Linked DNA regions of Homo sapiens. The protein of the gene in region 1 interacts with the protein of each later gene in a pairwise test. Each region holds a gene or a part of one and is shown in the gene's direction. Other genes may lie near its edges.

What was found.
Region 2: the proteins of FAM161B (region 1) and GPSM1 interact in binary tests that used the Homo sapiens proteins (3 or more experiments, as listed by UniProt).

What each region holds. Positions count from the first base shown.
Region 1 is NC_000014.9:73,932,815-73,936,752, reverse strand, and holds part of FAM161B (protein FAM161B), read left to right. Parts: intron 1-664; coding exon 665-804; intron 805-2,358; coding exon 2,359-2,497; 3' UTR 2,498-3,938.
Region 2 is NC_000009.12:136,330,411-136,334,348, forward strand, and holds part of GPSM1 (G-protein-signaling modulator 1), read left to right. Parts: intron 1-3,938. UniProt on the Homo sapiens protein: Guanine nucleotide dissociation inhibitor (GDI) which functions as a receptor-independent activator of heterotrimeric G-protein signaling.

The sequences.
Region 1 (3,938 bases):
TTCTCCTCTCACACACATAAGCACACATGGTCTTGGATTTACTTAGCAACCTGCATTGTTCAAAATCTCATGCTTCTTTATGTTAATGTTAAGCAAGCTCACTCTTCAGATCTCAACAGATCTTTCACCTCTCTAGGAAAAATACAAAGTACTCTATGATTTTGTTCTTGAATACTTAAACAAAAAATAATATTCTGCTGGTCCACATGCAGACCATCTGTCCTTCCACTAAGAGTCTTGGTGTAGCTTATTTTCTATTTTATTTTAGTGTTCCTGATAATGGTTTGTTGCTTTAAAATCTTAGGTTTTTAGTCCATCCTTTTAAATCTGGGTCTCATTTGTCTCCCAAAAGTCTAAGTCATTGCTTTTCAAAATTGTGACTCCCAAATCAACAGTTTGGCATCTCTGGGGAGTGTTAGAAATACAGAATTACAGTCCTCATCTGACACCTACCAAATGTGAAATCTGCATTTTAACAAGACCTCAGGTGATTTATATACACATTAAGGCTGGAAAACAAGGGTTAAATAATTTTCTTGCAAATCTATGCCCCACAATAAGGGTGGTGGTGGTTGTGGCAGTATTGTAACAATACTGATTAAGTAATTTAGAATTGTCTGGTAATTCATAAGACAGCTACAACAGATTAATTTCCATCCCACAGGATCTAGCCAAGAAAGAAGCAGAACAGTGGTATCTAGACACCCTGAAGCAGGCTGGGCTGGAGGAAGACTTTGTGAGAAACAAGGGTCAAGGCACCCGGGCTGTTCAAGAGAAAGAGACCAAAATCAAGGATTTTCCCAGGTAACCTGAAATGTTGCTGTCATTCTGCAGCTCTCTAAATTGTCATACCCAGTAATACCACTGGGAGGAAACTTTAGAATAGCCACTGGTATTTTGAGATCATAATCCTGTATTTATGTAACATTAATAAGTAATCCAGAGATCTCCAAGTAACACATTTGAATTTAGAGAGTGATGCAGTTGTGAATAAAATCTGACAAATTATGTTTCGTTTTCTTCCATTTTGAAACAGATCATTTTCCAATTCCAGTTCCAATTTCATGAGCTGAAACTATTTCTACTTTATTTTTGAAGAAAAATCATGTATATTTTGACTTCTTATAAAACTATAAAACTGTTTTTCTAGCATTCCTTAAAGGTAGCTCATTAGTATCACCTTCTCCATAACCTTTTTTTTTTTATTTTTTGTATTTTTTTTTTGAGACAGAGTCTCACTCTGTTGCCCAGGCTGGAGTGCAGTGGCGCGATTTCTGGCTCACTGCAAGCTCCGCCTCCTGGGTTCACGCCATTCTCCTGCCTCAGCCTCCCGAGTAGCTGGGATTACAGGCTCCCGCCATCACGCCTGGCTAATTTTTGTGTATTTTTAGTAGAGACGGGGTTTCACCATGTTAGCCAGGATGGTCTCGATCTCCTCACCTCGTGATCTACCCTCCTCAGCCTCCCAAAGTGCTGGGATTACAGGCGTGAGTGACCGCGCCCGGCCCTCCATAACCCATTTTGATATTGAGTCAAAGGGAGAAAATAGTATCTTCTCTCCATTATTCTCAATTGTTTTGTATCTTAAATCCTAGCAGCCCCTACCCTAATTCCTATCTCAGTTTTATACCCCTAGAAATTTTCCTTTACATCCCATATAAAATAGTAATAATGTTGAGACTTTTTTTTTTGAGACGGAGTCTTGCTCCGTCGCCAGGTTGGAGTGCAGTGGCGCAGTCTTGGCTCACTGCAGTCTCTGCTCACTGCAGTCTCCGCTTCCCGGGTTCAAGCGATTCTCCTGCTTCAGCCTCCTGAGTAGGTGGGACTACAGGTGTCCACTACCACGCCCAGCTATTTTTTGTATTTTTAGTAGAGATGGGGTTTCACCATGTTGGCCAGGATGGTCTTGATCTCTTGACCTCGTGATTCACCTGCCATGGCCTCCCAAAGTGCTGGGAGAGACCGTTCTTAAACCTTACACAGTGCTTTAAGACTTTCTTTTTTCAGACTGGGCACGGTGGCTCACGCCTGTAATCCCAGCACTTTGAGAGGCTGACGTGGGTGGATCGCTTGAGCCCAGGAGTTTGAGACCAGCCTGGGCAACATGGCAAAACCCTGTCTCTACAAAAAGTTAAAAAAAAAAAAAAAATTAGCTGGGTGCAGTGGCACGTGCCTATAATCCCAGCTACTTGGGAAGCTAAGGTGGGAGGATTGCTTGAGGTGGGAGGGTTGCTTCAGCTGGGCTGTCCAGGCTGCAGTGAGCTGAGATCATGCCACTGCACTCCAGCCTGGGTGAGAGTGAGACCCTGTCTGAAAAAAAAATTTTTTTTGTTTTTCATGTTTTAATTTATTCTGCAGGTTCCAAGAAACTACAAAACTCAGCATCAGAGATCCAGAGCAGGGTTTAGAAGGATCTCTAGAACAGCCTGCAAGCCCCAGGAAAGTACTGGAGGAGCTGTCTCATCAGTCACCAGAAAATCTCGTATCACTTGCTTAATCACTACACTTAAAATTACTGCTTTTGAAAAATATTAAGCAGCTAACTTGGGTTTGAGTCAAGGCAGGGAAAACTTGGGTTTTGAGTCATGGCTACTGTTAGAGGATGGACAAATGAAGAGTAGCAGATTAACAGGCCAGGCGCAGTGGCTCACGCCTGTAATCCCAACACTTTGGGAGGCTGAGGCAGGCAGATCATCTGAGGTCAGGAGTTTGAGACCAGTCCAGCCAACACGGCAAAACTCCACCTCTACTAAAAATACAAAAATTAGCTGGGCGTGATGACACGTGCCTGTAATCCTAGCTACTTGGGAAGCTGAGGCAGGAGAATCACTTGAACCCAAGAGGCAGAGGTTGTAATGAGCTGAGATCACTCCACAGCACTCCAGCCTGGGCAGCAGAGCAAAACTCTGTCTGAGAAAAAAAAAGAGCAGCAGATAACAGAGAATAGTTCAAGGAAATCAAAGTGGGGAGGCTCAGGTGGAGGGATGGTAGCCTAAAGTTAAGGGTTCCTGCTTTGTGCCTCACACTTAGAGAATTAGGTACAGAAAAGAGAGCACAGGCCCAAATGCCTATAAGGGGCTAGTGCAGAAACATAAATGCGTCCATGGAGTGGGTGTAGACAGTAGGAGATAGTAGACACTGGAAAGTATCAAATCCTGCTGGAATATAGGCTCAGAGTTACTACATCAACTACATTTTCATCAAGCCAGAAATTTGTATGCTATCAACTAATTTAAAAATTACTTAGAAATATTGTATGGGCAAAATAAAATACATCTGCATATCAGATCTAGCCCATGGGGGATGAAAAACTTACAACTTCTAGTACAGGATTTCTTATCCTCAGTGCTATTAATATTTTGGGCCACCTAATTCTTTGTTGAGGGTTGGGGAAGGGAACTGTCCTGTACATTGTAGAATGTTTAGTAGCATCCCTGGCCACTACCTGCTAGATGCCAGTAGTACCCCTCTCCCCAGCTGTGACAACCAAAAATGTCTCCAGATATTGCATATCCCCAGGGGGCAAAAATGTGCCTGGCTGAGAACCACTGCTCTAATATAAATGGCTGCATGAAGCAAAAACTGGCATTCTAAGAATACAAGTAATTGCCATGAACACAGTCTATGTACTATGTGATTATGCATGTCATTAACAAATTAAGAATTTAAAACAATTCTCTCCCGTTATCTGTTTAGAATGTGCCTGTGTGTTTATGTGAGCATGAGGTTCATTTTAAGTAAACTTAAAATTTCCCAGACAACCAAGATTTTCTACTAGTAGGTGAACTTTGGAATAATTTTCTTCTCACCAATAATAATTGGATATTCTGGCTCGGTGCAGTGGTTCATGCTTGTAATCCCAGCACTTTGAGGGGCCAAGGCAGGAGGATCGCTTGAAGCCAGGCGTTCAAGACCAGCCTGGGCAACACAGACCTCAT
Region 2 (3,938 bases), on another chromosome or scaffold:
CCCTGGTGGGTCGCTGGGCAGCGACGGGCCCTAGGAATTCCTGGCAAGCCTGACCCCAGGTGCTTCCTACAGCTGGGTGACCTTCAGTCCCCTCTCCAGTGATTCCAGCTCCCGCTGTGCTCCCAGCCCGGTCCTGCGCCTCACTCTCTCCCCTCCCCTGGCCACTGAAGGGGAGTCGGTGTGGTTTTCCCTGGGGGTGTCTGGCTGGGGGATGGGGCAGATAGAGCCAGCTGTGAGCAGAGTCTCTTCAGCATCTGCTCAGGGGCCAGCATGTAGGTGACGGCCTTGGGGAGGGGCAGGTGCCAATTCTGTTAGCAGGGCTGGGACTGAGGGACACGGCTTTCGGGTGGCCGGAGGTAGTAGGAGTTGCAGTGCTGGCTTGGGAACTGGCCTTGGTGATGGCACCCCAGCCACCACGGAGGGTCTGAGGGTTCAGTCTGTTGACGAGGACTGGGCAAGGGAGAGGCATTCTAGGTCCTGCCCCGCCTTTGGCCAAGCTGTCCTGAAGGTGGACAAATGGTCTGGCCTGAGTAGGACCCCTGAGCCCACAAGGCCTCAAGGTAAGGAGGAGAGAGCCCAGGGCCTGAAGACCCCCACCTGTCCTTGGATTCCTGCCTCTGCTCAGACCCCGTGGCCGTCTCAGGGATAAGACCTGCCCCCCCAGTCCCCCGCCTCTGTCAGGTTCCAGCCTCCTCATGGGCCACAGGTGGCTGGAGAAGCTGGGAGCCCAGCTGAGAAGGACGCCGGGGGCTTGGGAAGTTTGAGGAAAGGAGCCAGGCTAGGGGAACGTGGTCCATGCCTCCCAAGCCCCACGACCTGGGGAGCGGCATCCCCCAGGCCCCACGTGGCCCTGACCCCGTCAGACCTGGGGCCCTGTTCGCACCTTGGCCAGTCAGGTGAGGGAGAGCACAGAGGGCCCGGCAGACGTGGGGCTGGCATGGTGAGGACTCTGAGCCCCCCCCCCCCGCTGCCCCATGCTGGCACCGTGGGCTGGTGCCAGGGAGGCTGGGGAGGGGGCCAGGTGGGGTCGGGTGGAGCAGAGGAGGCACAGGGGCCTGGAGAACCGGTAGGCGGCCAGGGGCCACCACTGCGCAGAATTCCAGCTTTGCCCAGCCCTGGGCCAGGCCTGGGGGAAGAGGTGCTGGGCTGGGGGCACTCACACACTCTGGACGCCATTCCTCTTTCCATTCACAAACGTGCCTGGCGCTCCCGAGTGAGCCCGGTCCTGGGGCAGAGCAGCCCCCGCTGGGAACTGGATAAACGTTTGCAGAGGAGTTGGCGGGTGACTGACGGGAGGGCAATGCCGCTGGTCCCAGTCCCTGGAGGAGCACGTTGGACGGGATTACCCCAGGGCTCCCCGCCCCGCTGCTGACGAGGCTGACCCAGCCTCTGAGCTGTCCTTGATCCCTTGATCCACGTCAGGGATTGGGGAGGCCCCCGAGCACCTGCTGGAGGACTGGCAGTCCCCCGCCGAGCTTTAAACCCACCATCCTGGAGGTCAGAGGGCAGGGAAGCCTAAGGCCAGCCCACCCCCCAGGACCCGTGGCCATGGTGGGGCGAGGGCTGGCTTGGGGGAGGAGGGCCTGGGGCCTGGCGATGCCATCCCCTGCTGGGGAGGGCCCGCCTCTGGCCCTGAGCTTGGCGGAGAAGGCCGTGTGCAAGGTGGTGTATGGCGCCCCCCGCCCCCGCCCGCTGCTGCTGCCCGTGGGCCTGGAGCTGTGGCTCTACGTGCAGAAGATGCGAAACCTGCAGAGGAAGAGGTGCGGCGGGCAGCGAGTGGGGTGGTCACGTGGGTGTGGGTGCCAGGGCGTGGTTGGAGGCTGTCTTGGGATGAGTGGAGGGGACACCCACCTGGTGCAGCTGCAGGTGGCTGGCTGCATTGCCTGGATCCCAGATTGGAGGTGCAGAATGACAGAGGCCCATCCGTGCACCCATCCCCGACTTTTAGGCCCAGGCCCTTCCCAGGCCAGAAGCCTCCTTCGCCTTGAGCCTCGGATGCCACGTCTCCGGCTGGAAGGGAGGCGGGAGGTGGCTCCCATCATCAGATCTGCGGAGCAGCAGCGTCTGGGCTCCACAGACACCCAGGCCTCAGGCCTGAAGCCCCTCTCCTCCGATGTTGCCTGGAAGGAGGGGGCAGTAAACCGAGTGAGACCACTTGAAAAGTGGCTGGGTGGGGCAAGTGGGCCTTAATCAGGAAGCCCCGTGCGTGGCGCTGGCTGCAGGATGGGGCTTGGCTGGTTGTCATGGCGACGGTGGGCTCCTGTGACCCACGTGGCATCCGGATGGCCATTCCCAGAGGGATGGGTGAGGTGGCTGTGAGGTGCCTGGCAGGTAGTGGGTGGGAGGGCCTGGCCCTGAGGTGAGAGGATCACTTGAGCTCAGGAGTTTGAGACCAGCCTGGGCAACATAGTGAGACCCCCATCTCTACCAAAAAAAAAAAAAAAAAAAAAAAGCTGGGCATGATGGTGCAAACCTGAAGTCCCAGATACTTGGGAGGCTGAGGTAGGAGGATGGCTTGATCCTGGGAGATGGAGGCTGTAGTGAGCCGAGATCGCACCACTGCACTCCAGCCTGGGCAACAGAGCAAGACCGTGTCTCTATAAAAATAATAATGGTAACATAAGTTTTAAAAATGAAAAATGAAAGCAACAGAAAGCAAACAGGAATGATGGGGCCGGCCTGCAAGCAGCCGAGGCTGAACCCTTCCCCCACTTCTCTGAAATCAGGTCCCTCCTGGGCTCCAGCTGTGCCTGCCACCTCCTGGGGCCCCCCAAGCTGCGCCCTTGCTGAGTCTTTTGTGGCTCTCCGGGGGCACCCTGCAGATGGGGGCCCGCCTGCTCACACTGGCCACCCCATGGCATCTGCTGGGTGTGTCCTCCCCCCGCGACCCTCCACCCAGGGCAGCGCAGCAGCCTGAGGCCCATGTGACCTGTAAGAGTAGGATGGAGGAGGACACCAGGCCCCAGAGCAGGCAGCAGGGAGGTGCGGAGCCGGGCAGCCACGGAGTGACCCCACACTCCTCCCCGGCAGCTGAGTGCCAAGGGCAGCTCCCCAAGGCCCAGGGTGGGGGTCCCTCGGTGAGCAGGGCTAGGGTGGCAGCTGACGCACAGGGTGCTTGGGGGTTGTGCAGGGCCCAGGGTGAGGGGTTTCTTCTCTAAAGTCCCTGCCCGAAGGTGGGGGACCACGGCCAAGCAGGGCGTTGGTGTTCAGAAGAGGGCCTGGCCCTTGGGGTTAGGTGGCGCTCACACGGCGGAGTTCACCTTGGGATGGGGCGCCATCCACATCTTCCCACAGCAGCGCTGGGGGTGGCGGGCAGCACCTGGGAACAGCGGGTTCTCAGGCCTGTCCTGGCTGGCAGCGGCGAGCGCTTAGCTCTGTGGGTGGGGGACCAGGAGGAGAGGGGCTGGGACTGGCTAACCCGCAGCCACACCTCCGCAGCACTGGTCTCCCCTGGAGACTTGGAGGCTGACTGAATCCCCAGGCCCTGGCTGGGAGAGCTTGGGGGTGGGGGAGGAGCCGAGATCAGATCCCCACCCCACCCGACCCCCATGTGGCCTTCACAAGCCCCCACTACCGTCTGGGAGCCTCAGTTGTTCTTGGTGGGAATTAGGGGGGCCTCTCCCAGCAGCTGTGGTCGCTCAGGAGGATGGCTAGGGTGCCTGGCCCCTGCAGCCCGTACCTCTGGGATTTGGGTGAAGGCAGGGTATGGGGGCCACACCCCCTGCAACACCGGCCCCTGGGCCTGAGGGTCTTGCCGGGGTCACAAACTCACACCTTTGCCCCAGTGGCGTTCCTGACCTTGGCCGCACAAGGGGTGGACAGGAGGTGCTGGCAGAGGTGTGCTGGCTGGGGCGCCCTTGGGCCGCACACGTGCTTCCAGGCCTGTATCCCAAAGAGACACTTAGGTCTGTGAGCACAGATGTGGTGTGTGCCCTAGC